Linked DNA regions of Homo sapiens. The protein of the gene in region 4 purifies or fractionates together with the protein of the main gene of each other region. This does not show direct contact. Each region holds a gene or a part of one and is shown on either strand. Other genes may lie near its edges.

What was found.
Region 1: the proteins of AURKA (region 4) and PPP6R2 purify together in Homo sapiens (affinity purification with mass spectrometry; 6 studies listed by BioGRID and IntAct, with this or other methods). This does not show direct contact.
Region 2: the proteins of AURKA (region 4) and SCYL1 purify together in Homo sapiens (affinity purification with mass spectrometry; 4 studies listed by BioGRID and IntAct, with this or other methods). This does not show direct contact.
Region 3: the proteins of AURKA (region 4) and WDR62 purify together in Homo sapiens (affinity purification with mass spectrometry; 5 studies listed by BioGRID and IntAct, with this or other methods). This does not show direct contact.
Region 5: the proteins of AURKA (region 4) and TNKS1BP1 purify together in Homo sapiens (affinity purification with mass spectrometry; 4 studies listed by BioGRID and IntAct, with this or other methods). This does not show direct contact.
Region 6: the proteins of AURKA (region 4) and DICER1 purify together in Homo sapiens (affinity purification with mass spectrometry; 6 studies listed by BioGRID and IntAct, with this or other methods). This does not show direct contact.
Region 7: the proteins of AURKA (region 4) and SORL1 purify together in Homo sapiens (affinity purification with mass spectrometry; 4 studies listed by BioGRID and IntAct, with this or other methods). This does not show direct contact.

The regions. Positions count from the first base shown.
Region 1 is NC_000022.11:50,430,141-50,434,218, reverse strand, and holds part of PPP6R2 (serine/threonine-protein phosphatase 6 regulatory subunit 2), read right to left. Parts: intron 3,047-4,078; coding exon 2,837-3,046; intron 1,955-2,836; coding exon 1,890-1,954; intron 1-1,889. UniProt on the Homo sapiens protein: Regulatory subunit of protein phosphatase 6 (PP6). May function as a scaffolding PP6 subunit. Involved in the PP6-mediated dephosphorylation of NFKBIE opposing its degradation in response to TNF-alpha.
Region 2 is NC_000011.10:65,531,191-65,535,268, reverse strand, and holds part of SCYL1 (N-terminal kinase-like protein), read right to left. Parts: intron 3,694-4,078; coding exon 3,586-3,693; intron 2,578-3,585; coding exon 2,464-2,577; intron 43-2,463; coding exon 1-42. UniProt on the Homo sapiens protein: Regulates COPI-mediated retrograde protein traffic at the interface between the Golgi apparatus and the endoplasmic reticulum. Involved in the maintenance of the Golgi apparatus morphology.
Region 3 is NC_000019.10:36,089,397-36,093,474, reverse strand, and holds part of WDR62 (WD repeat-containing protein 62), read right to left. Parts: intron 3,031-4,078; coding exon 2,955-3,030; intron 2,276-2,954; coding exon 2,164-2,275; intron 2,074-2,163; coding exon 2,010-2,073; intron 787-2,009; coding exon 664-786; intron 1-663. UniProt on the Homo sapiens protein: Required for cerebral cortical development. Plays a role in neuronal proliferation and migration.
Region 4 is NC_000020.11:56,378,576-56,382,653, reverse strand, and holds part of AURKA (aurora kinase A), read left to right. Parts: intron 1-1,082; coding exon 1,083-1,221; intron 1,222-4,078. UniProt on the Homo sapiens protein: Mitotic serine/threonine kinase that contributes to the regulation of cell cycle progression.
Region 5 is NC_000011.10:57,317,875-57,321,952, reverse strand, and holds part of TNKS1BP1 (182 kDa tankyrase-1-binding protein), read left to right. Parts: intron 1-2; 5' UTR 3-67; coding exon 68-161; intron 162-1,240; coding exon 1,241-1,874; intron 1,875-4,065; coding exon 4,066-4,078.
Region 6 is NC_000014.9:95,095,030-95,098,529, reverse strand, and holds part of DICER1 (endoribonuclease Dicer), read left to right. Parts: intron 1-1,816; coding exon 1,817-2,705; coding exon of another isoform or gene 2,706-2,758; exon of another isoform or gene 2,759-3,184; intron 3,185-3,500. UniProt on the Homo sapiens protein: Double-stranded RNA (dsRNA) endoribonuclease playing a central role in short dsRNA-mediated post-transcriptional gene silencing.
Region 7 is NC_000011.10:121,601,960-121,606,037, reverse strand, and holds part of SORL1 (sortilin-related receptor preproprotein), read right to left. Parts: intron 1,846-4,078; coding exon 1,714-1,845; intron 926-1,713; coding exon 799-925; intron 637-798; coding exon 467-636; intron 1-466. UniProt on the Homo sapiens protein: Sorting receptor that directs several proteins to their correct location within the cell. Along with AP-1 complex, involved Golgi apparatus - endosome sorting.

The DNA.
Region 1 (4,078 bases), on a different chromosome or scaffold from region 4:
GCCCTCCTCCAGGTTCACCTCCAGAGCAAATGCCCAGCCCCTGCCCAGCGTCTGCGCCCCCGGCCCTCCTCCAGGTTCACCTCCAGAGCAAATGCCCGGCCCCTGCCCAGCATCCATGCCCCCGGCCCTCCTCCAGGTTCACCTCCAGGGCAAATGCCCGGCCCCTGCCCAGCGTCCGCGCCCCCGGCCCTCCTCCAGGTTCACCTCCAGAGCAAATGCCCGGCCCCTGCCCAGCATCCATGCCCCCGGCCCTCCTCCAGGTTCACCTCCAGAGCAAATGCCCGGCCCCTGCCCAGCGTCTGCGCCCCCGGCCCTCCTCCAGGTTCACCTCCAGAGCAAATGCCCGGCCCCTGCCCAGCATCCATGCCCCCGGCCCTCCTCCAGGTTCACCTCCAGGGCAAATGCCCGGCCCCTGCCCAGCATCCATGCCCCCGGCCCTCCTCCAGGTTCACCTCCAGGGCAAATGCCTGGCCCCTGCCCAGCGTCCGCGCCCCCGGCCCTCCTCCAGGTTCACCTCCAGAGCAAATGCCCGGCCCCTGCCCAGCATCCATGCCCCCGGCCCTCCTCCAGGTTCACCTCCAGAGCAAATGCCCGGCCCCTGCCCAGCATCCATGCCCCCGGCCCTCCTCCAGGTTCACCTCCAGAGCAAATGCCCGGCCCCTGCCCAGCGTCCGCGCCCCCAGCCCTCCTCCAGGTTCACCTCCAGAGCAAATGCCCGGCCCCTGCCCAGCGTCCGCACCCCCAGCCCTCCTCCAGGTTCACCTCCAGGGCAAGTGCCCGGCCCCTGCCCAGCATCCATGCCCCCAGCCCTCCTCCAGGTTCACCTCCAGAGCAAATGCCCGGCCCCTGCCCAGCGTCCGCGCCCCCAGCCCTCCTCCAGGTTCACCTCCAGGGCAAGTGCCCGGCCCCTGCCCAGCATCCATGCCCCCGGCCCTCCTCCAGGTTCACCTCCAGAGCAAATGCCCGGCCCCTGCCCAGCGTCCGCGCCCCCTGCCCTCCTCCAGGTTCACCTCCAGAGCAAATGCCCGGCCCCTGCCCAGTGTCCGCGCCCCCTGCCCTCCTCCAGGACACTTCTGTTTGAGTAGCACCTGCCACGTGCAGCAGGCTCACCCCAACCTCACTACCAAAAGTGCCACTGAGACAGATGAGGAAACAGACACTGCTCTCACTCCATTTTACAGACAGGGAAATGGAGGCAGAAAGGCCGTGGCGTGGCCTAAGTCCCGCTGGTGGCAGCAGTGGCGCAGGAGGTGAGCCCATGCTGCCAGCTACCAAGCTCAGGCTCAGCACCCCAAGGGGAGGGTTGGGCGGGACCTCCATGCTGTACAGCCCAGCTCGGCCTCTGCTTCCCCACAGCTGCACTCAGACCCCTCCCAGCTCCCTGGAGTCCCTCCTCATATCGCCCAGAGCCAGACAGTTCCCAGCAGGACAGCAAACGGGTGGGGATGGCTCTGGGCCCACGACAATAAGCGGGACATGTGTCCTGACCAGAGGGAGCACCCATTAAGCAGAAGATGGAAAGACCAAAATAACGCGTCCCTGTGTGCGAGTGCTGACGGAGGGCCCGAGTTCCTGGGGAAGATCAGGAACGGACAGCGGACCCACAAGAGGGCAAAGCCAGGCTGGGCGGGGGCCAGAGCAGGTGCCTGGTGGGGACGGGACCGCTTCCTGTCGGCTCCCTGTGTCCCCTCCCCAAGTAGCATTTGCAGCTGTCCGCCCAGTAGAAGGGCCCCTTGCACAGCAGCCCCAGAACGTGGAGCCACGTCGCACACCCTACACTCCACCCGATCCTGCAGTCCTGCACGCAGCGTCACCAGGGCTTGGGTGAGGTGCGTCTCTGCATCCCTGACTGGCCAGGCTGGGTCCCTCCACGTCCGAGCGGCTCTTACTGCGTGTGGTCGTTGGCTTCCCAGGCCTCCAGGATCCTCTGCACCAGGCAGCACTTCTGGAACAGCTGGGGGGCGGGGCAGGGGGACAGCGTGAGTCAGGGTCTGAAGGCGGCACGCACCCCTCCACCCATCCCTGGACTGGGCAGGGCTGGCTGGCGGCCACGTCTGTGTGGACTTTGCAGGCCCTGACTGCTGCGCACGCACAGCCCCAGCCTCCGCGGTCCTCACCAAACACCAGAGGAGGGTGCGGTTCGGGGCTCATACTGCTGAGCGCCCTAAAGATGAAGCCCGAGAAAAGGACCCTCTCCCTTCTCCTCCAACTCCTGGAATTGCCCCCTGACCCCTGTCTTCCCCTGGGCCTTCTCCCCGTCTCTCCATTGCCCTCCACTTTGGCCACTCTCCTGCCCTCTTTCTCTGTGTCCGGAAGAACGACTAGGGCTGTCTGCCCTCAGCACTTTCTCTCACCTCCAGGCCCTGACACAGATCACTTCTTGTACCTGAGATGTTTTTCCTGGGCTCCACCTCACACTACGATATACCTGTGGCCTTGCTATCCGGGTGACAGTCCCTGGTTGGCCTGCATGTCCCTCAGCATCCCCTCCCCACCGTGTGGCTCCCATCACTGACACTGCTGGCTCCCTGGGCATTTATTCCCTGGGCCTCCAGCTGGAGGCCAGACTGAACTCATCTCATCCAGTGCTAACCCTTGCCAGGCCTGCACGTGGAAGGCACCAGTACCCCTGCTGAAGGCAGGTAGGAATGAGATCTGCAAGACCCACTCAAGCCCCACTGTCTACGAGCGTCTGACCAGACACCTGGGGACCCTTTTCAAAGCCCTGCCCCCGTGTCAGCTGCACAGTGAGGTCCGGCACACGTCAGCGCTGACATGGACACGGTCTGAGTGGGGCGCAGTTGGCGCTGATAAGATGGATGCTTCTTGGACTCACGTGGGTCACCATTGTGTTGTCAGGGAGGCTGGCGGCCGGCTGGGGAGTCTCCAGGCTCCGGTTCCCGTTCTCATGCGGAGGCTCCACCCTGCTCTCGGATCCGCTGGCTTCTGTCCTCTCCTCACGGGCAGCGTGGGAGAGAATAGCGGCTATGCATAGTTCCACTTGGAAGTGCAAAAAGTTATTCCAGGTGTACTTAAAGAACAAGTCCTGGGTAAACAGAGGACAGAAGACAGTTCTTAGATCGGTTTTCTCCTGCCGGCTACACCACAAAGCTGAGGGAAACCCTTCCTAAAGGTGGCGTCCTAACTCCTCACAAGTCCAGTCTCTGGGTAGCTAGGAAGGAGTTTTAAGCGTTTTCCTGAGGGTCATCTCTCTATTACGGAGCTTCTTCAAATAGCCACTGAGCACTTCTGCCTCCTGCCTGTGGGTGTCTGTTGGTCTCTGCTTCAATCTGAATCATCACCTTTCTACTTTCTGCGGGTTTATTCTTTTTTTTTTTTTTTTTTGAGACGGAGTCTTGCTTTGTCTCCCAGGCTAGAGTGCAGTGGCACGATCTCGGCTCACTGCAACCCCTGCCTCCTGGGTTCAAGTGATTCTCCTGCCTCAGCCTCCCTGGTAGCTGGGATTACAGGTGCCCACCACCATGCCCAGCTAATTTTTGTATTTTTAGTAGAGACGGGATTTTGCCATGTTGGTCAGGCTGGTCTTGAACTTCCAACCTCAGGTGATCTGCCCGCCTCCGCCTCCCAAAGTGCTGGGATGACAGGCATAAGTCACCAGGCCTGGCTTCTTTTGTCCTTCAGTTGGAAGCTCAACTCATTAATTGCAGCCTTTCTTTCCAGTCTGTCTTTAAAGGCTACATTTCCCTGTATACAATCAACTTTAACTACATTCTACACATTTTGCTAAGTAGTATTTTTATGATTCTTCAGTTCTAAGTATGTGAGAAGTTCCTTTATGATTCTGTCTTTCTCATGAATTATTGGAAGTGTGTTAGACTCTCAAGCACATGAGGATTCCACCCAGGATGGGCAGGCGTGTGCATATCGTCCACCACACAAACGTGAGACTGTGAGGGGCACATTCAGACACTCCCCAAGGGAGCCCAGACTTAACCAGCATGGGCTGAAGCCCAGAGGTGGTTCTGGCCACCTAGATACTCCCCTGGGGGACAGAGGTGGCTGAACGAGGACAGCTGCCATCTCTCACCTCCCATGTAGCTTCTTCCAGATGAGGACA
Region 2 (4,078 bases), on a different chromosome or scaffold from region 4:
GAGGTTGGCCTCGTTCAGCTTTGGGGCCAGGAGCAGCATGGACTGTGGGGCAGAAATGAGTGGGAACTGTGGGCTGTGGCGGGCAAAGGGCCTTGTGCAGGAACAGCCTCCTGGCAGCCCTCATCCCAGAGCACACCCATCAAAGCCTGCAAGGCCACCTCCCAGCCTGGGCCTGGCCCTGTCCAGCATGTTGAAGAAAGGGACCCCATTTCTGTCCCCCTTTACAGCAAAACCTCCAAAGTCTGTCTGCACTCCTGTTTCCCATTTCCTCTGCTCTGCTCTCCTGATGGCACTCCACCTAGACTCACACAAACAGCCCCACACTCTGCCAAACTGGCTCAGGGTGAGGTCACTGATGCCCTCCCCGGTACTAATTTCAACAGCCAGTTCTCCATCCTCACCAAACTTGACCCTCAGCAGTTCTGACACCCCTGAGTTTTCCCTCCCTGAAACTTTGGTCTCTGGTCTTCCAGGACACCACCCCCTCCTGGTTCTCCTCTGACCTGGCTGGCTGCTCCTTTTGCTGAGACTCTAACGTTCACACACCCGGAGCCAATCTAGAGGGCTCTTTTCTATCTAACACTCTTGCCCTAGGTGATCTCAGCCATTTCATGGCTTTCAATGCCATCTTGTGAGCTGACAACCCCCAGGCACATACCCCTAGCCCAGACTTCCCTAAATTTCACACATGCATAACCAGTGGCCAACTCGACATCTCCATCCAGCTGCCTAACAGAAACAGCCAAGATGGGGCCCAACATGCTTGTGTCATCTCAGTAAATAGCAACTCCTAACCTTCCAGTTGCTCAGGCCACAAGCCTCAGAGCCACTCTCGTCTCCGTATCTTTTTTGTTTCTGAGATAGAGTCTCACTCTGTCACCCAGGCTGGAGTGCAGTGGTGTGATCTCTACTCACTGCAACCTCTGCCTCCTGGGTTCAAGCAATTCTCCTGCCTCAGCCTCCTGAGTGGCTAGGATTACAGGCGCCCACCACCATGCCTGGCTAATTTTTTTAATTTTTATTTTATTTTATTTTTTTGAGACGGAGTCTTGCTCTGTTGCCCAGGCTGGAGTGCAGTGGCGCGATATCGGCTCACTGCAAGCTCCATCTCCGAGGTTCACACCATTCTCCTGCCTCAGCCTCCCAAGTAGCTGGGACCACAGGCGCCCACCACCATGCCCGGCTAGATTGTTTTTGTACTTTTAGTAGAGACGGGGTTTCACCATGTTAGCCAGGATGGTCTTGATCTCCTGCCCTTGTGATCCGCCCACCTCAGCCTCCCAAAGTCTGGGATTACAGGTGTGAGCAACCGGGCCCAGCCATTTTTTGTATTTTTAGTAGAGATGGGGTTTTACCATGTTTTACCATGTTGGCCAGGCTGGTCTCAAACTCCCATCGCCTCAGGTGATCCACCCGCCTCGGCCTCCCAAAGTGCTGGGATTACAGGCATGGGCCACCAGGCCCGGCCTAAAATAATTTCTTAAATTTTGAGATGAGGTCTCACTCTGTTGCCCAGGCTGGAATGCAGTGTCACGATCACAGCTCAATGCAGCCTCAACCTCCTGGGCTCAAGCTACCTACCTGCCTCAGCCTCCCGAGTAGCTGGGACTATAGGCGTGCATCACCATACGCGCCTAACTTTTGTATTTTTTTGTAGAGATGGGGTTTGGCCATGATGACCAGGCTGGTCTCCAACTCCTGGGCTCAAGCGATCCTCCCACCTCGGCCTACCAAAGTGCTGGGATCACAGGCGTAAGCCACTGCGCCCAGCCCCTGACCACTGTTTTTAAAACCACAAACTCTTCTCCCCACACTTTCCAACAATGCATATTTTCTTTCTTTTTTTGAAACAGAGTTTCCCTCTTGTTGCCCATGCTGGAGTGCAACGGCATGATCTCGGCTCACTGCAACCTCTGCCTCCCAGGTTCAATTGAGTCTCCTGCCTCAGCCTCCCGAGTAGCTGGGATTACAGGCATGCGCCACCATCCCCAGATGGTTTTGTACTTTTTAGTAGAGACAGGGCTTCGCCATGTTGGTCAGGCTGGTCTCGAACTCCTGACCTCAGGTGATCCGCTTGCCTCAGCCTCCCAAAGTGCAGGGATTATGGGCGTGAGCCACCGTGACCAGCCAACAATACATATTTTCTAATTCTGTTGTATTGTCTGGCAAGCCCACCCTCTGTGCCCTGGAAAGGAAGCTCCATGAGTGCAGGGGGCTGGGCACCTCATGCATGCTGCCTCCCAGCATGGGGCTTGGGCCAGGAACAGGCAGATGCTCGTTGTCTGCTGAATGGAGGACGTGCTCCCCCGCCAGCTGCCGAGCTGCACCCACGGCCTGAACCCACACAGCAAGGACAGTGTCTGCTTGGACCCATGGGCCAAAGCCAAGGCCTCTGTGTCTAGGGTGAGCCCCTCCAAGCCTTGGAAAACCAGGGGTAGCCACTCTGGGCCTGGCCACACCCACCTTGACCGTCTGCTCCCGGATGGCAGGGTTGGTGTCCAGGAAGCCATGTACGACGTGGGGGAAGATCTGGGTGTTGACTGTTGGCTCGTCAAGGTACTGGATGAACTGCTCCATCTGTGGCCCAGGTTGGGATGCGTCAACATGGTCAGCCCTTCCCACTCTATCCCCATAGCCATGGAACCGCTCCTGGCTTAGCTTTTCCACCCAGCAGGCACTGGCCAGCCAGGTCAACCTCCTGAGCCACCACCCAGGTGTTTGGCCTCAGGCCCAGGTGGAGGAGTGAGGAAAGGCCAGGAGGGCGCTAGGAAGGCCTGGCTCATAGTCCGGCTCATCTGGCCACCCTCTCAGAGCCTCTTCTATTTTTTTTTTTTTTTTTTTTCTGAGACAGAGTCTTGCTCTGTCACCGAGGCTGGAGTGCAGTGGCGCAATCTCAGCTCACTGAAACCTCTGCCTCCCAGGTTCAAGCAATTCTCCTGCCTCAGCCTCCTGAGCAGCTGGGATTACAGGCACCCACCACCGCACCTGGCTAATTTTTGTATTTTTAGTAGAGACGGGGTTTCGCCAAGTTGGCCAGGCTGGTCTTAAACTCCTGACCTCAGGTGATCTGCCTGCCTCGGCCCTCCCAAAGTGCTGGGATTACAGGCATGAGCCACTGCGCCCAGCCTGAGCCTCTTCTATAAATGAGGGTATCACCCCTTCCCTGCTCCTCCCCACCTGCCCACAGTGCCACGAGGAGGACTGGTGTGTTTGGTGGTCACAGAGGGAATGGCACTGGGAGCCACTGGTACTTCCTAGATCCCATCCATCTTGTCTGATGCTCCCAGCTGCCCTGGGGTTGCAGGAGAAAGACTGTATCCCCACTCTAGAGGGCCAGAGTGACTGAGCCAGGAGAGGAGGGGGCATTAGAGCGCTGCAGCCTGGGCAAGCTGGCCATTCCCAAAACTGCCAAGGAGCCCTGTATGTGGCCAACTTTCTGAGAGCCTGGCCTCATTGGGTCCCTCAGTTGTGTGTATGTTCAGGGGTGGGGTTTCTGGGGTCCCTGTGCAGCCAGGGCAGGTGCCTCCCCAGCCACCAGGTTGGGGTCTGGGTGGACCACCACAGAGTCTGGTACAGAGGCCTCACCTGCTGCAGGAGGCGGATGCGCATGGCCCGGTCAGTGGATGAGAACATCTTGACCACCACAGGGATGATCTTCTGCTGATACTCCTCAGCGCTCAGGAACTTGCCCACCTGAAAGGGCAGGAAGATGGGTTCAGCTGCTCACAGGAATGGGCTGACTTTGCTGGGCTTATCTAAATTCCTGGGGCTGATATCCCAGGGTGGGAATGAAGTGATGGCGGAGGGGGGGGCAGGCATTTCCTCAGTAGCTCCTCTACCCATATTCCATCTCAGCCTTGCCCTTAACCTTTCTGGGCCAAGGCCTCTTTCAGGAGGCTGATGAAAGCTCTGGGCCCCTCCCTACAAACAGGTACCTTTATGCCATATGCAGAAATTCTGCCTGCAATTTCTGGGGGTTCTCAGCTATACAGGACTTGCTTGTTGTCTTCTCCCCTCCTGACAAGTCTTTCAGATGAAAGGGTTCTCCCCAAGGTGAGGAGGGCAGGGAATGCCAGGT
Region 3 (4,078 bases), on a different chromosome or scaffold from region 4:
AACCTCCCACTCAAAATGAGCAATACCCAAACCAAAACCTCAAATCAAAAACCAGAACATGAGTTCTCTGCAAATAAAATTGGCTTTGCTACATAAAGACTTGAAAGAAATATATTTAGAAGATTCAAAGAAGTAAGTGAAGCTACAGCTTTCACGTGGGAGTAAGAGGACACGTGGCCCCACTGCAGCCCTCCCCTCAGATCCCCTGTCTACCCACCCCTCCCCTTGGCTGGCCGGTCAGGGACTGCTCTGTTCCCACAGCCGCTTGGGGCATCCCCCATCACAGTGCTGAGAGGCTCGCCAAACACTTTGCTTTTCCACTTTAATACCCTTCTCATAGCCGGGTGCAGTGGCTCACACCTGTGATCCCAGCACTTTGTGAGGCCAAGGTGGGAGGATCACTTGGGCCCAGGAGTTCAAGACAAGCCTGGGCAACACAGCAAGACTCTGTCTCTATTATTTACGAAAATTAAAAAAATCCACAAAACCTTTTTGTATCTATTACTGTAACTGCATATTCAAAGTCTGTCTCCCCTACTCAGCTGTGAGTGTGCTAAGGGCAGGGCCTAGGGCTGTCTTGGCCACCACTGTGTCCCCAGCATCACTCCATGGGGCCCTGGCAGGGACTCATCCCTCTGGTGGACAGGCAGGGGCTGCCAGGACCTGGGGTGGCCACTCCGCTTCTTGTCATTTGTGTGCTGCTGCTGCTGCCGGTGGTCAATCTCCAGCAAGTGCTGCTTCATGCAGTTGGTGATCTCCGGGCCCAGGTGCCAGATGAACACGCAGCTGCGGAGGTCAAAGAGAGACACACAAGGCAGAGGAAGAGTAAGCATGGGAGCCGCTGCCGTGGCTGACCCTGAAGCCACCCACACCACAGCCTGGACCCCATTCTCCAGATGCTCCTGGAAAACACACCCCTATCCGCTTAGTGCAGGGGTGCTGGACTTGCCACATCCACACCCTGGGCCCAGGTCTGGGGCATCCCAGCAAACCAGGGCCTGTTCTGGAGGCCTCAAGACCTGAGGAAGGGGGCTGTGGGGAAGAACTGGGGTAAATCAAAGGGAGTGACAAAAGGGACTTCCTTGAGTACCACCCATGTGCTAAAGAATGTATGTATATCATCTCATTCATTTCTCACCATACAATTTTCTTTTTTTTTTTTTTTTGAGAGAGTCTTGCTCTGTCACCCAGGCTAGGGTGCAGTGACGCGATCTCAGCTCACTGCAACTTCTACCTCCCAGGTTCAGGTCATTCTCATGCCTCAGCCTCCCAAGTAGCTGGGACTACAGGCGCCTGCCACCACGCACAGCTAATTTTTGTATTTTTAGTAGAGACACAGTTTCTCCATGTTGACCAGGCTGGTCTTGAACTCCTGACCTCAGATGATCCATCCACCTAGGCCTCCCAAAGTGCTGGGATCACAGGCGTGAGCCACTGCGCCCGGCCTCATCACACCATTTTTAAGGTAAATGTAAACGGTGGTGTCTTTTACAGGGGAGCAAACTGAGGCTCAGGGGAAATAACCTGCTCAAGGTGACAAGAAAATAAATGGCAGAGCTGGGATATGTTTTTTTAGTGTTTTGTTTTTTTTTTGAGACGGGGTCTTGCTCTGTCACCAAGGCTGGAATGCACTGGCATGATCTGTGCTCCCTGCAACCTCTACCTACCAGGTTCAAGCCATCTTCCCCCTCCTGAGTAGCTGGGACTAGAGGTGTACATGACCACACCCGGCTAATTTTTTGTAGAGATAGGGTTTTGCTATGTTGCCCAGGCTGGTCTCGAACTCCTGAGCTCAAGTGATCCACCCGCCTCAGCGTCCCAAAGTGCTGGGGTTACAGGCGTGAGCCATCATGCCCAGCTTAGAGCTGGTATTTGAACTCAGGGCTGGGTGTGACACCAAGACTCCCACAATCCAAACTGGGCAGTTTAGAAATGCTCTCTACACAGGCAGGCTGAGTGCAGTGCTCATGGTATCTGAGCCACAACTCTCCCAAAGGTCCATGTCCCACCTGTCTCCAGATACTGTGATCAAGTGATGACAGTCATAGGTGAACTTCATGCTGGTAATAATTTCTGCAAACAAAGCAGAGAGGCTGCACTTGCCTTCGGAGTCAGAGGGTGTGGGCGGGTGGGGAGGCATCCCAAGCAGAGAGGCACACCCACCTGAATGGCCAAACATCTTGGCAATGCACTCGCCCGAGTAAAAGTCAATCACTGAGATGCTTTTGTCAGAGCAGCTGGTGGCCAGGAAGGTGCCTGAGGGGTCCACATGGACCTGCCAGGAAAGGGACCCACATGTCACTCCAGCTGCCTGCTTCTTCCTTATGATGAGGCCTGGGCCCCTCCCTCCCCCGTGCTGCATGCACAGCACATGGGACTCTGGCAGGGCAGGAGCTCCCGCTCCCATTCGACACGTGAAGAAATTAACAACCACCGCAGCAGTAACAACAGTAGCCAGGCCCTGTGCTAAGCACTGAACATGTGCAAACTGAACTCCTCCAGAGAACAAGTCTATGAGACAAGCTGTCTGTGTGCATTTCAAGAGATGATGCTTGCCCAAGGTCACACAGTCAGCCTGAGGCAGAACCTGAACCCATAACTGTCCTAGACCAGAGGCTCTGAGAAGGTCCCCCCTTGTCCTGAGTGACCCGTGGCTGGTGTGGGCAAACCAGGAGGGGAGTTCATGCCTCTGATTCTTCCCACCATACCCTGCTGCCACTCAAAATGGAACCCACTTAGACGCCCCACTTGGGGAAGGGCTCTGTAAATAAAGGAAACACAGCTGGGGTCACCCTCCCCACCCTCTCGCAAGCATCCTTGTTTAACCAGGCCTGAGAAGGTGCTGGGCAGCGCGGTGCACTGAGGAAGGACCAAGGGCACAGGTCTCAGGTGTGGGCCGTCACAATAGGTGGCCCATCAGGGCAGCAGACAGACAGGGGTCTCCAACTCCTCACCTTCAGCAAGGACCCTTCGTCACCCTGGGAGCCCTTGTAGCACTTCTTCTGCTTCCCGTTCACAGTGTTGTAGACTCTGGGGAAGTAGGGGCATGTTGCGGCCAACAGGGCCCCGCCTACCCCACCACCTCATTCTCTGGCTCTTGCTGTCCTCCCCTCCCCTGGAAGCCCCCTGCTACCTCTTGTCCCCATCTGATGCCTAGACTGAAACTGAAACCCCATCTCAAGCTGAGGTTGTCCTGGGGTATCCACTGAGTTAATGTTCATCTCCCCCACACACTGCAAGCTCAGTGCTTGGCACCGCATGAGAAAGAACTGGGAAGGGGTGCAGAGCCTCTTTGCACTGCTTTGCCCTCTGCACACTCACTCTCTGCCTCCCCCTGGCTCGCTCCTCCACATCCTCCCCAGGCTAAGGTGTCTCTTCCTCCAGGAAGTCCTGCTTGATCCGCAGGTGGGGTCAGGTGTCTCCACAGGGCCCCTGGGCTCCCCCATCTCTGACCACTCTGTCACTGTCTGTGGCTGTGAGGTGGCCGTGTCCATTCTACTGGACTGTGAGCTCCATGAAGGAGGGCCTGGGGCTATCCTGGCCACTGCCATGATCCCAGCACCATCCAGCCCAGTTAGGTGCTCAGGGAATACGGGTGAATGAGGGAGTTTATGTGCCACATCAGCACCTTAGTCATCCCACACCGGCTCTAGGGAGAGCCAGAAGAAAGCCCTCTGCTGACCTGGAGGCCAGGCTTGGGAGAGCCCAGCTTCTAAGAAATACCTGCTGGTGGCCGGGCACGGTGGCTCACGCCTGTAATCCCAGCACTTTGGGAGGCTGAGGTGGGCAATATCACCTGAGGTCAGGAGTTCGAGACCAGCCTGGCCAACATGGCGAAACCTCGTCTCTACTAAAAATACAAAAAATTAGCTAGGCATGGTGGCAGGCGCCTGTAATTCCAGCTACTTGGGAGGCTGAGGCAGGAGAATCACTTGAACCCAGGAGGTGGAGGTTGCAGTGAGCTAAAATGGTGCCACTGCACTCTAGCATGGGCAACAGAGCAAGACTCTGCCTCAAAAACAAAAACAAAAAAAAACCAAGAAGGAACACCTGCTGGGTCCCTCAATTCCTTCCCAGC
Region 4 (4,078 bases):
CTTTCAAAGAGCACTTAAGTGCTCTGATCCTGGAAAAATCACTTGAGGATTTAATGTTTTGTTAATAGAATAGTTTATATGGGCAAGTCTTTCTGGTGGACAGTGAAGGGGAATGGCACCCCTTATTCTGAGGTATGCAGGAATTGCGAGCAGCTACCTGCAGGTTGACTACGGCTGGTGGGTTTTTGTTTTTCCTTTTTTTCTTTCAGTGTTTTTCAAATTTGAATCAGATGCTAATACTTCAAGTCTGGCCACATCAGGCCTGGTGTGTCTCTGCCTGGCAACACCTGGCTGGGGCTGGGAGGGGCAGGCATCTCACATGGGCTGTGCTTCCCATTGCCTGCTTCCCGCTGGCCACAGTCTGCACCTGCCCAGTCTGCTCAGCACCCATCTACTGCCATTACTGATCACTGCTTTTATCTGTCACAGTGTCTGGGTGTCAAACTACTGTGGCAATGCCATGTCCTTTTTTTTTTTCCTTTTTTTTTTTGAGATGGAGTCTCGCTCTGTTGCCCAGACTGGAGTGCAGTGGCGCAATCTCAGCTCACTGCAACCTCTGCCTCCCAGGTTAAAGCGATTCTCCTGCCTCAGCCTCCTGAGTAGCTAGGATTGCAGGCATGCACCAACAAGCCTAGCTAATTTTTGTATTTTTAGTAGAGACGAGGTTTCACCATGTTGGCCAGGCTGGTCTTGAACTCCTGACCTCGCGATCCTCCCGCCTCGGCCTCCCAAAGTGCTGGGATTACAGGCGTGAGCCACTGTGCCCGGCCATGTCCTTTTTTTAATATGTAGATAATTAATATTCAGCTGAATTTTCCTCCTAAGAATAAAGGTGCCTAAAGGAAGGAAATAGTCTTAACTAAACCAGAGGTCCATTAATACTGTGAAGTGCTTTTAAAATGATATGTGGGTGTATGTATTTTTCTTGGAGTGGGTTTATAGTTTCAGATTCTAAAGTGGGGTTTGGAGTGTGGTTTCATGTGAAACACCACTGGTTTTACATGAAGAGTTTGTTTGACATTTTGTACATAGTCTTCTGTGAGCTCCAAACCAAGTGTTAGAATGTTTATCCTTTGTTGCAGGCATCCTAATATTCTTAGACTGTATGGTTATTTCCATGATGCTACCAGAGTCTACCTAATTCTGGAATATGCACCACTTGGAACAGTTTATAGAGAACTTCAGAAACTTTCAAAGTTTGATGAGCAGAGAACTGCTACTGTAAGTGTTCATTTATTGTCCAGGCTAATTGTGTTTCCTTTATACCTGTCCTCCATAGCAATGTACCTTTCATCATAGTAGAGTGGGTTTTGTCTTGACGTAAGGATAGCTTAATATCAAATATTTGAAGTGGAAAAATCAAAATAGCTTAGTTGTACCATATGTACAGATAAAGTCTAGAACCAGGTAGAATGTTGTATCTGCTTTTGTGCCTAGTTTGCACAGCTGTTTTCTATGGAAATGTATATAATGTATATAGATAGTCACCCTCATTTTCTTTAATAGATGTTTTATTTTAGAATAATTTTTATTTTATTTTATTTTTTTTAAAGGGACAGGGTCTTGTTATGTTGCCCAGGCTGGACTCAAGTGATTCTCCACCTCAGCCTCCCGAGTAGCTGGGACTACAGGTGCACACCATTGTACCTGGCTAGGATAGTTTTAGATTTACAGAAATTGTGAAGGCAGTACAGAGAGTTCCCATATACCCCACACTGAATTTCCTACTAATTCTCCTACTAACATCTTGCATTAATATGGCACATTTGTCACATTCAATGAACCAATATTGATATATAACTATTAACTCAAGTCCACATTTTATTCAGATTTTCTTAGTTTTTCTCATGATTAAATTGGGCTTATGGGTTTTTGAGAGGGAGATCAGAGGTAAAGTGCATTCTTATCACATACCAGGGATGTAAACTCTTATGACTTTTAACTGTGGATGTCAGCTTGATCTTCTGACTCAGAGAGTGTTTGTCTGGTTTCTCCACTGTAAAGTTACTATTTTTTCCCCTTTCCGTGCTGTATTTCTTCAAAGGAAGTTACTATGAATAGCCCACACTTAAGGAGTAGAGAGTGGATGGAGTATTGCCATAAATTATCTGGAATTCTGTGCCAGAGATAAGGCTGTTCTCCCTTATTTATTTAATCATTTATTTATTTAAAGATGTAGACTCCTGGGTATTTATTTTATCTCTTGAGCTATAATGCAATACTTTATTTTGTGGTTCAGATCATTGCAACTTTGGCCACTGGGAACTTTTTTTCTTTCTTTTTTTTTTTTTTTCTTTTTGAGACGGAGTCTCACTCTGTCGCCCAGGCTGGAGTGCAGTGGCGCTATCTTGGCTCACTGCAACCTCAGCCTCCCAGGTTGAAGCGATTCTTCTGCCTCAGCCTCCCAAGTAGCTGGAAGTACAGGCACCCACCACCACACCTGGCTAATTTTTGTATTTTTAGTAGAGACGGGGTTTCACCATATTGGCCAGGCTGGTCTTGAACTCCTGACCTTGTGATCCACCCACCTCAGCCTCCCAAAGTGCTGGGATTACAGGCATGAGCCACCGTGCCCGGCCTGCTCTTTTTGTTTTACCAGGTTCCTGGGAAAATCATTGCAGTTTTGTCTTGCGTGTGTGTGGTTTTTTTTTGGTTTGTTTTTACACTTCCTTTTTTTTTTTTTCTTTTTTTGAGATGGAATCTCACTCTGTCGCCCAGGCTGGAGTGCAGTGGCATAATCTTGGCTCACTGCAGCCTTCACCTCCTGGGTTCAAGCGATTCTCCTGCCTCAGCCTCCTGAGTAGCTAGGATTAACAGGCATGCACCACCACACCCGGCTCATTTTTGTATTTTTAGTAGAGATGGGGTTTTGCCATGTTGGCCAGGCTGGTCTCTAACCCCTGACCTCAGGTAATCTGCCCGCCTCAGCCTCCCAAAGTGCTAGGATTACAGGTGTGAGCCACCACGCCTGGCCTTGTACTTCCTTACTTTCTGATACAAGATGCTCAGGCCTCATCGTGTATATTTCCTGCTCCAGTCCTAGAATCGAACCACTTCTCCAAGGAGCCCTGTTTCCTTTTCTTGGAGAATGTTATTAGAAACCAAGCTCTGGGCACTTGGTGTACTCATTGCTACTATGGTGTCACTACTTTTAGGCTTTCAGCTGACACAGCAAGGGAATATATGTGGATAGTAATCTGTGTATAGATTTATCCATCTATCTCTTCATTAAGCATACCATGAATTCATACTGATGTCTTCAACTTGAATCCATTACCACGTTTCATTCTAACTTCCTCCTGTTTACCTGTAAACTCCCACTCCAAAAGTGTGAAACCTGGATTTCACCGCCCACCATCCTTTTACTTATTCAATTCCAATATACATGTATAATGGTATCAGAATTGTTAACCAGCTGCCACGTGGGAACCAACTTTATCAATTAGAGTGCTTATGTGCACTTCCTTTGGCCTTTGTCTTATAGATTCCACTCATTTCCAAAGCTGCTTGGATCAACACTTTACCCTCATGCCCTTTAGTAAGGTGGTTTCCTACATTTGTAATGCAATGAGATTTTTTTGTCACAATCTGCATGCCCAGGATGGAATCATTTACATTTTCATATCCTGAGATTGATTTTTGTGTGTTTGCTGTAAAGTTCTATGAATTTCGACAAATACACAATGCCATGTATCCACCATTATGATATAGAGAATAGTTTCGCTGCTCTTAAGAAAAAAAAAATCCTGTGTCTCAACTACTCATCCCTTCCAACCCTTCCATCTCTGGCAACCACTGATCTGTTTACTGTCTCTATTGCCTTTTCCAGAATATCATGTAATTGGAATCATAACAGTATGTAGCTTTTTTAGGTGGGCTTCTTCCACTTAGCAATATGCATTGAAGATTCATCTGTGTATTTTTGGAGGCATGAGAGCTTGTTCATTTCTGTTTATCACAAAATCATATTCCATTATTTCATTATATGGAAGTACCTCAGTTTATTCGTCTACTGAAGGGTATCTTGGCTGCTTCTGGTTTTTGGCAGTTATCATGTTTTGGCTGTCAACATTTGCAT
Region 5 (4,078 bases), on a different chromosome or scaffold from region 4:
AGGTCTGCAGCCACCCCAGCTCATACCTCTCTGCCTCCCCGCTCTCAAGGAGGGTCTGCCGCATGTGATGAAAGTGTCTACTCTCAGGGAAAGCTCAGCCATGGCTTCCCCACTGCCCCGGGAGATGGAGGAGGAGCTGGTGCCTACTGGCTCTGAGCCAGGTACCAATGGGTGCAGGGTGGAGCCAGGTGGCTGGGAGGGGGGTGGGAAGGACAGAGGCTGCCCCCTCTTTCTGTCTTGGGGGGTGGTTGAGTGATGATTCTGTTGAGATAGGGAAGGAGTACCAAGGCAGTACAGGATGAGTTTGAAAGGTTCTCAGCTTCTCTTGAGACTCTTCAGAACTGTTTGGGATCATAAATCTCCAACAGGTGTAAGAGCAGACAGGGACCTTTGAGATGATATGGATCAAGCTGCATGCTTTGCAGAGGGGAAAACTGAGGCCCACAGGGAAAAATGGAGTGTACAAGTGGGAGTTTGAACCCAGACCTCCTGGCTCCTTGTGTAGACTCTTTTCTTCTATTTAGCCAAATGTGTAGGAGGTACGGGATTCCATCAGGAGGACTGTGGACGAGGGTACTTCCAAGGTCATTTAGCTTTATATAGAAGGTAGATTTCTGGTCCTGTTTTTTTTTTTCTTCCCATAGCAGATTTACTTTTGTTTGACTTGGGTCAATAGTAAGTTTGCATTCCCAGTCACACACCAGATGACAGTGGGGAGGTGGCCTGGGAGTGTGCTGTGGGTGGGGGAGGAGGCAGCCTGGAGGCAGGATAGAGAAGCTCAGCTGAGATTGAAAGTTTACTATGGATGATAGAGAAGAGTGTCACATAAGGTGAAAAAACTAGATTGGGAATATGGGGGGGCTGACTGCTTGATAGGGACAGGCAGGCATTTGTTTATTGGCTCATTTGTTCATTCATTCTTTTGTTTAATTATAACTTATGCTAGGGGCAAAATACAGTACAGGAAGAAGTAAGGTGCCAGGTGGGTCCTTAAATAGCTTCAGCTTAAAAGGGGAATTGGCTAAAACATTTTGGGAGTTTGAAGAAGGGAGAAGATGCTTTGGGGATGTGTGTAGAAAATCAAGGAAGGCTTCATGGAAGAGGTGGCATATGACTTGTGCCTAGAAAGATGTGAATATTCTTAAATCGGAGGGTGGGAGATGAGGTGGAACAGGAAACAAAGAAGTTCTGCTTCCTGGTTCTTCTGACAGCTCCCCCACCAACCCTTTCCTTTTGGTAGGTGACACTCGGGCCAAACCCCCTGTCAAGCCCAAACCCCGGGCCCTGCCTGCCAAGCCAGCCCTGCCTGCCAAACCCAGCCTGCTGGTGCCTGTTGGGCCTCGGCCTCCCCGGGGTCCCCTGGCTGAGTTGCCTTCTGCCAGGAAGATGAACATGCTGGCAGGACCCCAGCCCTATGGTGGCAGCAAGCGCCCCCTTCCCTTTGCACCAAGGCCTGCGGTTGAGGCCTCCACTGGAGGAGAAGCCACCCAAGAGACTGGGAAAGAGGAGGCTGGGAAAGAGGAGCCACCCCCTTTGACACCCCCAGCTCGATGTGCAGCCCCAGGGGGTGTACGGAAGGCCCCTGCCCCTTTCCGCCCAGCCTCAGAGCGCTTCGCGGCCACCACGGTGGAAGAGATCCTGGCCAAGATGGAGCAGCCTCGGAAGGAGGTCCTTGCCAGCCCCGACCGCCTGTGGGGTTCCCGCCTCACCTTTAACCACGATGGCAGCTCGCGATATGGCCCCAGGACCTATGGCACGACCACTGCTCCCAGGGATGAGGATGGCAGCACCCTCTTCAGGGGATGGTCCCAGGAGGGGCCAGTAAAGTCTCCAGCAGAGTGCCGGGAAGAGCACAGCAAGACCCCTGAGGAGAGGTGAAGGGTGGGAGGTTGTATATTTTGTGGCAGCCTGGAGGTCAGGTGGGGTGGGATTGGGTGGGGGCTGGGGACCAAGTGCATGGCCCCATATAGGGTTGTGACTTTTACCTGTAGGTTGGTTGTGTGCTGTGAGTACAGGCAGATCCCGATCTAGGTCACAAATCATTCCCCAGCAGATGGTGTTATCATTACTGTATGCTTTTAAAGTTGTAGTTTTCTTTACAGAGTTGATGCAGGTTTATGTTAGAGAGTTCAAATGTACAGTATAGAAGTTTAATAGACAATAGACTTTTTTTTTTTTTTTTTTTGAGATGGTGTTTTGCTCTTGTCACCCAGGCTGGAGTGCAGTGGTGCGATCTCGGCTCACTGCAACCTCTGCCTCCCAGGTTCAAGTGATTCTCCTTCCTCAGCCTCCTGAGTAGCTGGGATTACAGGCGTGGGCCACCACGCCCAGCTAATTTTTTTGTATTTTTAGTAGAGTTGGGGTTTCACCCTGTTGGCCAGGCTGGTCTTGAACTCCTGACCTCAGGTGATCTGCCTGCTTCGGCCTCCCAAAGTGCTGAGATTACAGGCATGAGCCACCACGCCCGGCCAAGAAGTTTAGTTTCTATATACTGAGAGCTGGGCACCAAACTTTGCCTCGTTGGCATCCTGTTTGTTCAAGGGAGTATTAGATCCATTGTAGAGATGAGGAAACTGAGGCTCAAAAATGACTCCATAGTCTCGGCAAGTTAAGAGGCAGAGACAGATGTTTGTTTGATTCCAAATCCTCTGCTCTTAAGTGCCAGCTCTTACAGTGGTCAGAGCAGTGTGCCAGTCCTGGGGTGGGGCTGCGTGTGTCAGGATGAGTAGGGCACAGTCTCTGCCTGTGAGGTGGAATCTGATGGGAGAGGTAAGAGAGGAACACATCTTTTTTTTTTTTTTTTTTTTTGAGACGGAGTCTCGCTCTGTCATCCAGGCTGGAGTGCAGTGGCGCAATCTCGGCTCACTGCAAGCTCCACCTCCTGGGTTCACGCCATTCTCCTGTCTCAGCCTCCCGAGTAGCTGGGACTACAGGCGCCTGCCACCACACCCGGATAATTTTTTTGTATTTTTAGTAGAGATGGGGTTTCACTGTGTTAGCCAGGATGGTCTCGATCTCCTGACCTCGTGATCTGCCTGCCTCGGCCTCCCAAAGTGCTGGGATTACAGGCGTGAGCCACTGCGCCCTGCGAGAGGAACACATCTTGATGCCAGGCCAGCTAGTGTCTGCACAGAGATTTTGGCTGGTTGGAGATATTTGCATATGATACGCTTCTCCAGAGTTGCCACTAGTGTAAAGCAAGGCTGGCCAGGAGGTGCTTCTTGGGGTGCTGGGCACGGGACTTTGGAGGAAGAGGCTGAGGCATCTCAGGAGCCATCAGCTGCACAGAGGCTGTCCTTAGTGCTGGGAGAGCCAGCTTGAGGTATGGCTGGCTCCTTGGGCCTTTAACAGCTCTGCTGGGCTCAGAGGCTCCCTTTCTCTTCCTACTGCTATGAAGGCAAGAGCTGGTGTGGTCTGGGCTAAGCGGGAAGCTGAGGGTCCCTGCCCTGCCCTGCCCTCTGGCCTTGCCCTTCTCTCACCTGAAAGTGTCTGGAGCCTTGGCCCCAGAGCTAGTCCTTTGCCTGTCCCAGACCAGGGTGCTGTGAGGTCACACTCTTGCCCAGGCTGGGTTCCACCCGCCATCTTCCTTCTCTCCCTCACTCCAAGTAGGGCTTAAGAACAACTTCAACCCTGGAAAATCACTCTTTCCTCTTCCCCTCCCCCACTGCAATTCTTCAAGAAGTATTGGCAGGGCAGCAGGACCAGCTGCACTCTTCCTGGCTAGAGGAGAACTTTAACTCCTTATGGGTTAAAGGAAAGAGGAGTTATCTTTTTAGGAGCTGTTGAGAGGTCTGGGCATCCAGGATGCTTTTCCTAAAGTAGCTGGGGAATTTAACCCTTCATGCTCAGGTAGGGAATAAGCACTGTTTTCTGGGGCACTTGCCGAATGGAAAATGGACAGATTCTGTGTCCCTAATAGTTGCAGGCAGGGCTCAAGAGTAAATGGCTAGGAGGGTTTAACCTTTGGGTGCTGTTAAAGTTGCACTGGGAGACTCTCCCACATTTTCCATTCTGTGACAGACTCTAACATTCCGTGCTTCCATTTCCTGTCCTCGTCCCTCACAGGAGCCTTCCTTCC
Region 6 (3,500 bases), on a different chromosome or scaffold from region 4:
ATTTTTCTTAATGTTTCTGATGGCACTTTGGTTATTGGAATTCATTAGAAATACTGTTCAGATTTTTATTTAGTAAGTTACTTTTATTGAAATATAGGCCCTTGCATTATATTGAAAAGATACACTGTGGTTTTGGCTGGTTGCATTGCCATTCTCCCTACCTTGCTCTGGCCCTTCAGCAAATGGGCTTAAGTGGAAACCTTTGCATGCTAAAACGCCTCTTAATAGACGAGAGTATCAAAGTTGACTTGAATGATATAGAAAAGGATTTCATGTGGCTGTTTTTTCTTAAAAGGCTTGAAGTGCTCTTGAAAAACATTTTATGAGACAGAACCCCACTCTTTTGTAGATGAAGCATCTGAAACCCAGAGGCACTAAAAGGCTTTGCCCAGGATCACACAGTTTGTGATAAAAGTCAGCCCTTTGTGATTTTTGTGCTCTGCCACTTTTGGCTTATGGTGGCACCTTTCTAAAGATACAGAAGGTTTTTTTCAATAAAAAAAAAATATTGTCTGATTTTTTAAAAATCGCAGTTTGGCCCTCTTTTTCTTAAGGACCAATCAAAAACATCTTCATGTTGCCTTGGAAAGTCTAAGATTGTTAGCAGGAAATGTTCCTTGAGGTCTGCCGCTACAGTTGCTTTTGGTGTTCCTTATTCTTGAAAAGGTGTTTCTTTCTTAATTAAAAAAATGAAAAGATAAATAGTTAGAGATATGGCTTGGCTTACTGCTATTTCTTTTCAGACAAATGTAGTGTTTATATCTTGAGTCTAGTTTAAAATATTTGTAGTATTTAAAAAATGCTTGAAGGTTGCAACTTTTTTTTGTCAGAACACTGGAAAGTTGTTACAATCAACATTGATGCACACCCTTCGTCTTCCCCCTTCACAAGTTTTTTGGTTTTTTAAAAACTTGCATAACAGAAATTTGGCATCTTTCTAGGATTGCAAAGAAGTTACATCATTACTGAAATCTAGCCCATTATTAAGGTTGTCACTCACAAATAAGCTTTTGCCAAAGAAATTGGAATTAGCAAAGATCTTTTGACAGAAATTGGATTGTTGTGTTTCATGTTAGTCTAAATTTTCTTCCATTTTTGTCAGTTATGCTATAATCTGTTCCCCTGATTACCGTAGTTCAGAGTGGAGGGAAAAAACGTAACTTCTCAAATTCATAGCTTAGTGCAGTGATCACTTTTATTTTTTAAGGAAAGCAGTGTAGTTTTTTTGTGGCAAGTATACTTTGAAGTGGAAATAGGGACAAAAAGCTTTATTATAAAATCCTATTGTACATTTTAAAAAATGATTTTATCTGTTTTTATATTATATTCTTAATTGCAAAGGTAATGCTTTTCTACATCTGGAATTTCGTTTTATTAGTTTGAAAATCTTTTTGAAAATCAAATTACCACATTTTCAAATTTTGTCAGCAAAATTGAAGATCTGTGTGATCAGCATATGAGTGCTTTCATTGTGTGTCCTACCAGAGTTAGACGACTTAGTTGAAGTTTTGCATTGTGGACATTAATTTTAACTTTATATCCATGTTCAAAGTCCTTAACTTAAAGCTTCATACTGGATAAAGGTCATTTTATAACTTAGAAAACGAACATTCAAAGAACATGTTTTACTTTGTTTATATGATTAAATAACTTATTTTATGTTAATTGAAAACAAATGGCCATGATTTTAAAGTTGCCTTTTAGTATTTGTGGTTGTCATTTGAAATTATCCATAACCCTTGCTTTTATTGAGTTTCAAACCCTTTTAAAAACAGCAGCTATGTTTCCCCTCCTTCCCCATTCCCCCTCGTTTCAGACAAAAGACTGCATGCTGGCGAATGGCAAACTGGATGAGGATTACGAGGAGGAGGATGAGGAGGAGGAGAGCCTGATGTGGAGGGCTCCGAAGGAAGAGGCTGACTATGAAGATGATTTCCTGGAGTATGATCAGGAACATATCAGATTTATAGATAATATGTTAATGGGGTCAGGAGCTTTTGTAAAGAAAATCTCTCTTTCTCCTTTTTCAACCACTGATTCTGCATATGAATGGAAAATGCCCAAAAAATCCTCCTTAGGTAGTATGCCATTTTCATCAGATTTTGAGGATTTTGACTACAGCTCTTGGGATGCAATGTGCTATCTGGATCCTAGCAAAGCTGTTGAAGAAGATGACTTTGTGGTGGGGTTCTGGAATCCATCAGAAGAAAACTGTGGTGTTGACACGGGAAAGCAGTCCATTTCTTACGACTTGCACACTGAGCAGTGTATTGCTGACAAAAGCATAGCGGACTGTGTGGAAGCCCTGCTGGGCTGCTATTTAACCAGCTGTGGGGAGAGGGCTGCTCAGCTTTTCCTCTGTTCACTGGGGCTGAAGGTGCTCCCGGTAATTAAAAGGACTGATCGGGAAAAGGCCCTGTGCCCTACTCGGGAGAATTTCAACAGCCAACAAAAGAACCTTTCAGTGAGCTGTGCTGCTGCTTCTGTGGCCAGTTCACGCTCTTCTGTATTGAAAGACTCGGAATATGGTTGTTTGAAGATTCCACCAAGATGTATGTTTGATCATCCAGATGCAGATAAAACACTGAATCACCTTATATCGGGGTTTGAAAATTTTGAAAAGAAAATCAACTACAGATTCAAGAATAAGGCTTACCTTCTCCAGGCTTTTACACATGCCTCCTACCACTACAATACTATCACTGGTAAGGAGCCCACGACCAGACTTCATTTCTGGGAAAATGAGACTTTGTGTTGATCTCATCGTGTTGGCCTTGTAAAAGTGATCTATGCATGTACAGTGTTCATGCTTAATATTCAAGGGATGGGGCGGGGAACAAAAGGAATAGAAAGAATTCTTTTCCTTGTTATTTGGGGAGCACGTATTGCTTTATAACTTTGGTTGTTGGGAGTATGGCTATCATATACCCTCATCAGTGTCATTTTATATCTGCCTAATTAGAGAAATTTTAACCTTAGTATTTTGATGTGTTTTCCCCATTTTATCCTCCGCAAATATCTTTCTCTTGCCCATTCAGTGCTGCTTTTGGTTTTTGATTTAGTTGTATATTCTGGATGTATTTCCACAGCCTTTTATTGTTCTTCCTGGACAAAAAGACCCCTCCTTTAGGGTCTTTTTAAAGATGGATAGATTAAAAGATTAAAAGCAATGATTTCACAAGAAGGTTGCGTGGCCCTTGCTGTGACTCTGCTGTCATCTTCTACTTCTCACTGTGCTCTGTATTTGCCCCTCTTTTAATAGACTGTCAACCCATTAGATTAGAAGGGAGAACAAGCCCCTCACACCCAAATCAGCTTCAGGCTGTGAAACACAGCTGAAGTTTACATTTCAATTTCTGTATCAGAAAAATAAGTGCCTGAATTCAGAACACCAAAGCAAAGTATAAAGTTTGTAGTTTATATAATAAAAGCAGCGTAGGTTAAGGTGATCAGCAAAATGTAAAAACCAAAAAGTGAAAAACTATCTGACTCTGGACTGG
Region 7 (4,078 bases), on a different chromosome or scaffold from region 4:
GGCGGGAGGACCACCTGAGCCTGGGAAGACTGAGGTGGTGAGCAGTGATTGCGCCTCCACTGCACTCCAGTGTGGGTGTCAGAGTGAGACCTTGTCTCCAAAAAGAAAAAAACTTAGCCACAAAATTGCTGATATGCCTCATATTTTAATGACGATGACCTCCTCCTAAGTACCAAGTACTAGGAAATATCTAGAGGAGGAACGTAGAGGTAGAAACTAGACAAAAAATGCAAGAGGGCAATGGTGGAGAGAATCTTAAATTAACTTAAGGTACAAGAACAGTCTCTGATGCAGTAAGAAGAACAGATGTTTGACAACTCTGGCAAGACTATAAAGCTTAGCCACCATACTTCTGTACATGTGAGGCACACATATGTTCCCACATTCCTGAGAATACTCAGAAAGACCCTCACAAACCCCGACCTGAGGTCTTACCCATGCCATAAAAATTAACTGAAACACTTACATCCCTCTGGGGTCCTCAGGGTCACAAAGTCATTGGTGTTGTGTGCCTTGCTGAGACACTGAACCTGTACTTTAACCTGATACGTGGTATCTGGTTTCAAGACTTTTAATACAGTGTTTGTCTTATTGCTGTGGGTCTCCAGAGTCTTCCATATGCTCTCTCCAACCACCCTGGCCCAAAAAAAAATAAAGATATTGTCACACTGGAGCAGCATGGGGGGCTGAGATGTCTGACTCCGTTAATAGCATGGTGCATGCCACTAGAGAGTTTACAGAACATCCTGGGGCAATGAAGACATCATTTTCATCTCCCATGACAAAGATGGGACCTACCTGTAGTAGACATTATATACACAAGAAGCAGAGGGCATTTTTTTGGGCCTCATCCAGGTCAAAGTCACATCCCCAGAGAAGTCAGCTGTCCACTGAAGATTCTGTACTTTGTACACAGTCAACTCATCTAGAGAGATAAAGGAGAAAAAGACAAACAAAGTTACATCTTGGCTGGGCGTGGTGGCTCACGCCTGTAATCCTAGCACTTTGGGAGGCCGAGGCGGGCAAATTGCCTGAGCTCAGGAGTTCGAGACTGGCCTGGGCAATGTGGCTAAACCCCGTCTCTACTAAAAATACAAAAAAAAAAAAGTTACATCTTACAAATCCTTAGATTTCAAAGGACTCCTGCTTTTAAACAGAACTACCATGATCTAGATTATCAGGAGGCCATAATCATTATCTGAAAAGAAATCTCAGAAAATGTAGTTGAAACCTCCCTATACAATCCCTCCTAGGGTCTCCTACTTTTCCGGTCGTGATATTTTCCCTCGAATTTCATCTTCCTCCTGCCTATGACAATTTAAGCCTATTTCTCCATAGAGAATGCTACAAGTCCAAGGACCATGTCATAGGGTCCATTACTAGACACTCCAGAGATAAGAACTGAGTTAATCCCACCAGCAGATTGAGACTGTGAGAGCCATGGTGTATGGGCATGAGGTGGGAAGTCCATAAAAAAAAAAAAATCCAAGACTAGCATTTCACTAACAGGGAGGAGACAGCTGCATGTTGTATCAGAGTCTGGCCAAGGCTCACCTCACTTGGGGCTCCAAAACTAGGCACAAATCTGTTTTATCCTTAGATTGAGCAACAGTTCAAAAGGGTCCTAGCTCAAGGTCTACACAGGAGGGGCCCTGGGGTAAGCGAGCCTCCCAGCCCAGCCCAGCCCAGCCCAGCCCGTGGACCGGCACTCACCACTGCAGGCCTTTTCATCGCTCTCGTCCGAGCAGTCCAGGAAGCCGTCGCAGCGCTCCGAGAGCACAATGCAGGCCTCCCCGTCCTCGCACTGGAACTCCCTGCTCATGCAAGTCAAGGTGCTGTGTGTGGCTGAAACACAGAGAGGCTTCTTAAGTCCACGGGGAGGGGCCGTATGGTACTAAAGGCTGGGCCCAAGTTTATTCCCATTTAGGCAAAGTACTAATTGGCTTCTGCTTCAAAACACACCTCTGGAATGACCAGTGGTGGAATCTATACCGGCACTAAGGTGCCATCTCATCTAACATTAACAACTGGAATCTGCATTCGGGAAGAGTGAGCACTTTGGAGTCAAACAAACTAGAGTTTAAATCCTAGATCTGCATGAGCTTGAGCAAACAGCTTAATATCACCTGAGTTCAGTTGCCCTATAAAAAATGGAAGTAACAATTCCATCACTATCATGTCTGCAAGGATCTAATGAGATCACACACCTGGAACACTGCCTGGCTCCTGGCCGGCATCAACAAACTGTAGCTATTACTCTATAGTACTATTAATTATTCTGCTACTATTATTAGTTTGCAATCTAGAAAGAGGAGCTGATTTCTGGTTTGAGTAACAGAAATAACAATGAGATGAATCCCAACAATATTAAGAGGCATGCATACTTTATGTAGTATTTAAAGTTGTTTGGCTTTTCAAAGTACTTGAACAGAAAATGAAATAATGCAAATAATGAGCACTGGTAAGTTAAGGGTTATGCAACTGTATGTCTAGGCTATTGACCAAAATGTGATGTGCTCTCCAGTTCTGAAAGTAGATTAAAACTGCACGGGAGGCTCCAAAAAGAAAGCAATGACCGTATAATTGCAAATGCTCCTGAAAAGAGAAAAGGTGAGAATGGCTGTAGACAGCAAATCTGCTATGCAGGCTGTGTACCTGGGTGGTACAAATCTGCTATGTAGCTGGTTGAGCCCAGGAACAGTAACTTGAGGCCTTCCTTATACAGATTCACACCTGCCTGCCCAGTCCTGGACAAGGAAGGGCTACATCAGAAATCCAATCCCACCAGTGATGAGGGTCTAAAATCAATCTTGCTCCTCCAAGTCAAAGACGTCCACATCCTAATCCCTGGAACCTGTAATATGTTACCTTATGTAACAAAGCAACTTTGCAGGTGTGATTAGATTAAGGACCCATAGGTAGGAGAGTTCAGCCTGGATTATCCAGGTGGGCTCTGTCTAATGACATGGGTCCTTAAAAGCAGAGACCCTTTTCTGGTTGTGGTGAGAGACAGAGAGAATACAGAAGACAGGTGAGAGACATGCAACATCACTGGCTTTGAAAATGGGGAAATTATAACAGACAAAAGGAGGCTGAACATGAGTGGCTCCATTCTGCTCCCCGCACCCTGCCCCCTGCCCATGGTGACATCTTGTAGGTTAACGGCCTCTGCCTATCTCTGCACGTAGGCCAAGCTAACTATGGAAGGAATTTTGTTTATAGTTTAATTTTAAAGCAAGGATGATAATAGTCCCTTCCTGAAACTAAGCCCTGAGGAAATAAAGAGAGTGTACACACAAGTAACAAAGTTATGTTAAAGGTGATATGAGCATTGTGACCTGAGCAAGGAAGCTTCATACGCCCCACTTCAGACCCAGGCATGTGGTCATGGGTCACCTCTTGACCTCGACCCCCTCCCTCTTCTCCTTCCTCCTAACATAAACAACCACACTTTGAGATATAGGTAGAGAAACTGGATAATGTTCCCATGAGAGCAACCAGGATGGTCAAGAGGAATGGATAAAGGATCCAGGGATATTTTCCTAGAGGTGAAAAGATACAAGGATGGGGGAGGTGGTGAGAAGACATGCAGACCACTCTGACAAGTGTTCTCCACTGATGAGTTTTCATGAGAAAGAAGAATTAAGACTTCTTTGCACGAGTCTCTAGGATGGAGGTACAGACTTCAGTTCACTACTTATTCAAAAACAATCCTGATAAAAAATTGTCAATAGAAGGGAACTATCAAAACCACTTATGAGGCTTTTCACAAACTATAATCCCCCATTCTCCAGGAAGATCATTGCATTTCAGAATTCTATTATATACTGAGCTGAAATTGGTTTGCCATGGTGGGGGGAAGCTCATGACAAATAAACGTGTATTCAAGAATTAGAGAAAGGTTTGAGAACCACTACTGTAATAGTCTCAGAAGCCCAAGATGGAATTCTGTGAACATTCATGGAGGTCCTACCATGACTCGGGCACTGCTCCAGATGTTAAAAATATGGGGATATGTAAAACAGATGAAGGACCTGTCCTCAGGGAGTTATCTTCTATTGAGAGAAACTGCAAACAA